Linked DNA regions of Homo sapiens. The protein of the gene in region 2 interacts with the protein of the main gene of each other region in a pairwise test. Each region holds a gene or a part of one and is shown on either strand. Other genes may lie near its edges.

Region 1 (3,753 bases), on a different chromosome or scaffold from region 2:
CACTTGAGGTCAGGAGTTTGAGACCACCCTGGCCAACGTGATGAAATCATATCTCTATTAAATATATAAAAATTAGATGGGTATGGTAGTGCACACCTGTAATTCTAGCTACTTGGGAGGCTGAGGCATGAGAATCACTTGAACCCGGGAGGCAGAGGTTGCAGTGAATCGAGATTGCACCACTGCACTCCAGCCTGGGCGACAGAGCGAGACTCTGTCTCAAAATAAAATAAAATGGACAAAAAGAGCAGGACCAAGAAAGTACAACTTTAATGCATCTGCAGCCAGTTCTTAGAACAGGACAAGGTGATTAGCAGATACCAATTCTCATGGCTTTTGTGTTTCACAAAACATTAAACTGCAGACTGCATCTTGAATTATTTCATCAAATGACAAACACATGATGTAGAAGGAAATGATGAATACTTAAAATATAATTGACAAGTAATACAAAGAAGACAGGCTAGTAAGCATAAATTTTCACTTTGTGGACTTCTTTGTCATCACATTCCCTCTGTTTGTTGTAGTAATAGAACGTATTGTCCCTTCTCTGAAGTTTCTTCACATATCCTGTCTCCGGCCAACGATCTACCTGCACATCAAGAACCAGAGTACAAACGTTACAATGGAGGGTTGATTTTTATCTCATATTTTACTATCAAATAGTTAAAAAGTATGACTTACAGAAACAAAGTATAAGATTAGATTTTAGAATGCTTGAGCTTTTAAAGTATGATACCCACAAGACACATCTTACATTGCAGCCTTATGCTGTAAGATAACTAATTCAGGCCGAGTGCAGTAGCTCATGCCTGTAATCCCAGCACTCTGGGAGGCTGAGGCAGGTGGATCAATTGAGGTCAGGAGTTCAAGACCAACCTGGCCAACATGGTGAAACAATGCCTCTACTAAAAATACAAAAATTAGCTGGGTGTGGTGGTAGGTGCCTATAATCCCAGGTACTCAGGGGGCTGAGGCAGAAGAATCCATTGAACTCTGGAGGCAGGGGTTGCAGTGACTCTAGATGGCGCCACTGCACTCCAGCCTGGGTGACAGAACAAGACCCTGCCTCGGAAAAAAAAAAAAAAGACAACTAATTCAGTGCTTTTCTCTAGAGCCCAATTTCTAGGTTTATTTTATTTTGTTTTATTTTGGAGACAGAGTCTTGCTACATTGCCCAAGCTGTCCTGGAACTGCTGTAGTCAAGTGATCCTCCCAGCTCGGCCTCCCAAGTGCTGGAATTACAGGCCTGAGCCACTGCACCCAGCTCCAATTTCTAGATTTAAATTTCAATACTGTGGCCAAGATAAGACAAAACATTCCAAGTAATCTAAACTTCATTTCTCTTATGTTTACAAAAGATTTTAAACATTCTAACTTCTAAAATTAATACCACAGGAGGAAATTAGGGCTAAGCCCAGGCTCCATTTTGTAAGTGCTGCCTGCTGATTGTTGATGAATACACAGTGAATAAAGCAAGCAACTCAAGAACTATCCAAAAGTGTATATGCATTTCCTTCTGCCCCAATTTCAAGTTCACCTTGAAATCCATTTTTTTTTTTGAAACAGGGTCTCACTCTGTCTCCGAGGCTGTAGTGCGGTGTTGTGATCATAGCTCACTACAGCCTCAACCTCCTGGGCTCAGGGGATCCTCCAGCCTCTGCCTCCCGAGTAGTTAGAACTACAGGTAAGCACCACCATGCCCAGATAAGTTTTCTATTTTTCTTTTTTTTTTTTGTAGAGACAGGGTCTCACTATGTTGCCCAGGCTGGTCTCAAACTCCTGGCCTAAAGCAGTCCTCCTACCTTGGCTTCCCAAAGTGTCAAAAATCTTTTTTTTAATTTCTTCTACCATTCTTTATTGTTGTTATTATTATTATTATTATTATCATTATTATTATATGTTGCCGAGGTTGGTCTCAAACTCCTGGTCTCAAATGATCCTCCTGTCTTGGCTTTCCAAAGTGTTGGGATTGCAGGTGTGAGCCACTGTCCCCAGTCATCTCCTACCATTCCTTCTTGTATACCATATTGGTTTATCTACTTTTTCATTTGGCTTGATCTAATTTGGAGATCTGTCTCTCCACTTCCTCTTCAATGTTATCCCTTCCTGGCCAGGTTAATGTATTTCACCACTGTCAAATATGTTCCTTTCAGATTTTGTGAGATGCACTTTATCATAACCAAAAACTCATTATCTAGGTTGTAGAAAACCAAATCCTGCTCTTCAACACCATCTATACAGGCAGTCCTGCACCCTTTCTCCAAATCCTGTTCTTCAACACCTTCTATACAGGTAGTCCTGCACCTTTTCTGTTCCCCATGAATAAATCTCAGCTTTCAGTAGGAAGAGGAGATGAATATACCATCTGTGTCCACATGTCTTTTACTTTCTAATAACACATCTTCATTTTTTGTGTCATCTCATTTACTTATGAATTAGCGAGAATAGGTAACAGCATATCTGAGAAGCCTTGGCAGGCCTTCTGACATACATTACAGAAAACCAGCAGTCCTTTCCACCACTGAGGCCACACCTGCCTGTGTGGCTTCCAATACCTTTGGCAGGGAAAGGAGGTGTTCTCAAGACTCCATTACAGCCCTCTTCCCTCCTGGGGCCAGGAGCAGATTATCTGAAAGCCATCTGATCCGGTGAGAAAACAGTACAACCAATGCCTCTTCCGAACATCTGGAGCTGAGCTACTTGATATGGGACAATCCTTAGGACAGCTAAGTTGCTCCTTTGCTTGTTGACTTCTAGACATTTTTCCTTTTGATGTCCCTTGGCATCTCTGAACTTTCTTTTCTTCTTGACTTTCAACTTGATCATTTCCATTTGATCTGGGAAACTTTCTTGCCTGTGGTGGAATGGAATGAGATCCTCAAGTTCAAGGACTTTCCCCTCAGGAGGGAAGGTCAGCAAGCACTATACCACCAGGTAATGAAAAACAGCTTCTCTCAAACCTCAAACCACTGCACACTGGGAGAAACATCCCACCCAAAGCAAGCCTTCAGTCACCATCCTATCCGTCCCTGAAGACCCACTGCAAATGCCACTGGGGACACTAAGCCCTCTCTGGGGATTGTCCCTGGAAGGAAGTGATTTTGTTTTCCTCTAAATCCCTGTGCTTCTTTTTGTTAAGGAACATATACTTCGATTTGTGTAAGGTTTTATTGTTCTTGTTACTTATTTTAGAATCTAAGATGATGAGATTAATAAAAGGTATCATTTACTAAACACTTGCTGTTCCTTCAGTCAACAAATTTTTTGTGGGGGAGTCTCGCTCTGTCGCCCAGGCTGGAGTGCAGTGGCATGATCTCAGCTTACTGTAACCTCCCCCTCCCGGGTTCAAGTGATTCTCCTGCCTCAGCCTCCCTAGTAGCTGGGATTACATGTGTGCACCACCATGCCCGGCTAATTTTGTGTATTTTTAGTAGAGACAGGGTTTCACCATGTTGGCCAGGCTGGTCTCTAACTCCTGACTGCAGGTGAACGGCCCGCCTCTGCCTCCCAAAGTGCTAGGATTACAGGCGTGAGCCACTGTGCCCAGCCCAACAAATTATGAGCACTATAATGTCAGGCACTTCAAACATGTGATTACATTTAATTCTTGTGACAACTTTCTTTTCTTTTTTCCTTTTTTCTTTTTTTTTTTTTGAGACAGGGTCTTGCTCTCTCACCCAGGCTGGTGTGCAGTGATGTGATCACAGGTCACTGCAGCCTCGATCTCCTGCACTCAAGCAATCCTCCCAC
Region 2 (3,753 bases):
CTTTATTTATCTCTCACTAAGATAAATTTAAGTTTGGAAATGTTTAAGGTAGCTGCAATAAAATGTTTGAACAGGATGTCTTAGCTTAAAGTCATTACAAAAAAGTAAATAGAACATAGTGTACATAACAAAACTACAAAATACAAAGAAAAAAGTAAATAAAAAACAACAACCGAAGACCAAAAAATAAGATGACAGAAGTTAAATGAGACCATAAATGTCAATGACTTAATGTATTAAAATACAACATCTTAGGCCATAGTAAAATACAAAATTTAATTTTGTGCTTACAAGAAACACTTGTAAAAGTGTGACAATAAGCTAAAAGAATTAGCAAAACATACCAAAAATGTTTTAAAAATATAGTATAGATGACATTTTTATTATGAAATTAGTATACAATGTAAAATTATCCATAAAAACATTGGGCCTTTAGGACCTAAGAAAAAATAATTATTTCAAATTGTACAAAATAATGTTTTAAAACATTTCCAAATGCACATAAATCTCTGAGAAAATATATATTCCATAAATGTATGCTGAATAACATAAATTTTATAAATATAAAAGGAAAGTAAAGTAAAACTGATGTCTGTATAAACCTACATTAGGGATTTGTTTTCTATGCTCCAGTTCCAACAGAGGATCTGGACATTGCCTCTTCCCTGCTTACTTCCTTGATTGGCTGGACTCCCTCTACATCCCCAGCTTCTACCTGAACATGCATTGTAAATGGGAAGTCTGTGAGCAGACTGTAGACAGGCCTGCTGCTTGGGGAACTGTAGGAAATTTGATTCACCCCAACCCACAGTAAACACTCAGGAAGATGATGGGTTCATTACGAGTTACTCACATCCAGGGGTAGGCAGGCATGTGGCGTGAAACTCCAGAATGCTGAGAGAGAGCTGGAAGGTACAAAAATCTCCCACTAAGTGGTATTACAATTTTCGGTTACAAAATCAGAATATCACTTTTTATCCCATAAATATATATTAATATATATATAATGTATGGACTATATATAGGGAATAAATATATGTATAATTTGTCTCTACATAGGGAATATGTATATATGTAATTTATCAATAAAAAATTTGTTAATCTCCTACTAATGTAAAAGGGAGTTTCTCAAAGGTCTTGATGGGCTCCTCACTTGATTAGAAGGTGGTAACTAGAAGCTGGGTGCATTCATAAGGATTTGAAAACCAAGGAAATTATCACCTCTTGCTGGGAAGGCCCCATCCCTTGCTCTGTGTAGATGTATTATACCTGCAGTCTGAGTCTGTGGGCTCATTTCCATGTACACTCTCACCTTCAGCTCTGCCGCCTTGCTGGCAGTAGCTCAGGCCACAGGTACCCTGGACAGTGGAGGGCTCAAGCAAGACCAAATCTTCTACAGGTAGATGATTCCCAACTCACAATCTCTTTTCTCAACCCCAGAGTTTTAGTTCCCATTCCCTGGTGCTGCTGGATGCTACTGCCAAGGTCTGGACAGGGGACATGGAGGGACACTGAGGGTGATGGGTGGAGATGTGGGAAAGAGATTTGTCTCCGCTCCCAGAAGAAGCAGGCAAAGGGAGGTTGGGATGTTTTGACTTTGAGGTGTCAGTGGTCCCAGGTTCAGCCCACTCTTTGTCCTCTCCATTTCTTCTTGATGCCCTGAATGTTCTACCTGTCATCCAGGCTCCAGTGAACAAGCCAGGAATCATGCTTGACCTCTCACTCTCCTGTTTGCCCCAAAGAAGGCATATGCCTCCCAGGAACGTATGAACATGCACTTCTGTAGCTTTCTTCTTAGAACCTTGGGCACCAATCTTTTTCAGCTGTTTTTATTTCTTTCATTTTATTTTTACGTGGATCTTTTCAGCAAACATTCTAGAGGCTTCTTGAATCCTATTCAATATCATACTTGAGCCAAATGGTAACGAATTAACAAAAAGGTAGCAAATTATTAATATGCTGTCAATGTGCATTGTATGTGGATGGGAGATTTAACTGTTAAGGTCTAAAGGTCCATGATTTTAACCTCATTGCTCATTGATTCAGGACATGATGACATACTTCAGGTCATTAGGGGGATGGGTTAAGGAAGTCTTCCTGAAGTTCTAAAGAGCGTGCCCCTCTGGAGTGGGTGACAGCTGCATAGCTTGTCTGCCGTGCTCTGCCCGAATGCTGTTTTCACATGGCGTCTCTTCTTTCTTTACTTTCAGGTAGAAATTGAGAAGCTGGATTACCATCATTATCTGCCTCTGTTTTTTGATGGGCTTTGTGAAATGACATTTCCCTATGAGTTTTTTGCTCGGCAAGGAATCCACGACATGCTGGAACACGGTGGGAACAAGATCCTACCTGTCCTTCCACAGCTCATTATCCCGATAAAAAGTAAGTGAACCGGTGAAAAAGCATCACTCAGTTTATACGGTGTTGCTTTTTGACAACTTGCTAATTAAGCAATAAACCATGACAGACTGAGGTGATCCCCAGTTTTGCAGGAATTTTCATAAATTGACTTAGGAGGCCAGACAACCCAAATCTCCAAAAATATATCCCATCATCAATATTTCACTATGGCTTAGCCACATAAATAAACCAAATTCCATGGGGTTTGTGCTAATTTAAAATGCCTCACAGTAATGACATAAGCATTAACATTAACTTACGCATCCAGAGGTCTTTACCTGCTGCTGCTAACTTCCAAGTCTTTTTTTTGTAAATGGCATCTCTAATTTTTAAATTATAAACACCGTTATGTTGAGTATATTTGAGGTAGTACCATTCATAATTTTAAGGAAGGGAAGCCCAGCTGCATAGGTGAAAAGAAGAATGTTTTTAAATACCTGAAACTTTTAATCTACAATAGGTAAGCTGGGTGACTCTGGGGTAGCCCTGTGATTGGCTTTGTCTGTGAAATGAGATTGTCCTTCCTTTCTGCATGCACCTTGCTCACAACATTGCACGGCCCCTTGGACTGGTTGTCTAAGAACCTGAGGTTGTCCCACGTGACAGCCTTCTGGGGTTCCAGAACACTCTCTGGCCATTCTTACCTTGCTGCCAGTAGAGCCACCCTGATGGGCATGCCTGGCATCCACTGGTACAGGCTCAGGAAGAGGATGGCCTCTCCTCAAGTCAAGGTGGCAGGGCTGGCCCCTCTCACCCTCACCAGCACATCCCCTCCCCAGCCCCAGAATTGCCCACCTGTCCTGCATTGCTACTGCTGCTACTGCTACTACTAATTAAAAGCAGAGGATCAGTGCCTCCTCTGAACACTCATTCTGCAGATGAGGGAGACCCTACCTTTTTCTCAGCCAGAGCTGCTCCAGGCACTTTCACCCCCTGGATCCAGGCCCAACTGCCCATGGCTTCGAGGGGTGAGGAGGCCCCTGCTCCCCCCGCCCCAAGTTCTACCTCATCTTCCACTCCAGGATGGGCAGCTTCCCAAAATGATTGACAGGACGCTTAGCTAGTCTTCTAGGTTGGGGAACCCCACCCTCACTGGCTCAGGTGAGCTCTTGCCGTGTGCTTTCATCAGAACAAGAACAAACTAGCTCAACATAGGGTCATCTCCCAGAGTCTGGATTATTTAATCGTATCCAAGGTCACCATTTTTATTCATTCATTCGAATTTATCCATTCATTCAAATGTATCATGATCAAAATGCTAGATTTCCACAGTTCTGCTCTTACTGCTTGCATCAAATCAACTCTGAAACTCTCCCTCAGATCTTTGAGGTCTCCGTAGAGATCTGTAAGTGA

The links. The genes of interacting proteins can lie anywhere in the genome.
Region 1: the proteins of PACRG (region 2) and MEIG1 interact in binary tests that used the Homo sapiens proteins (3 or more experiments, as listed by UniProt).

Annotation. Positions count from the first base shown.
Region 1 is NC_000010.11:14,969,352-14,973,104, reverse strand, and holds the end of MEIG1 (meiosis expressed gene 1 protein homolog), read right to left. Parts: intron 593-3,753; coding exon 464-592; 3' UTR 248-463; downstream 1-247. UniProt on the Homo sapiens protein: Essential for spermiogenesis.
Region 2 is NC_000006.12:163,059,940-163,063,692, forward strand, and holds part of PACRG (parkin coregulated gene protein), read left to right. Parts: intron 1-2,210; coding exon 2,211-2,382; intron 2,383-3,753. UniProt on the Homo sapiens protein: Microtubule inner protein (MIP) part of the dynein-decorated doublet microtubules (DMTs) in cilia axoneme, which is required for motile cilia beating. Suppresses cell death induced by accumulation of unfolded Pael receptor (Pael-R, a substrate of Parkin).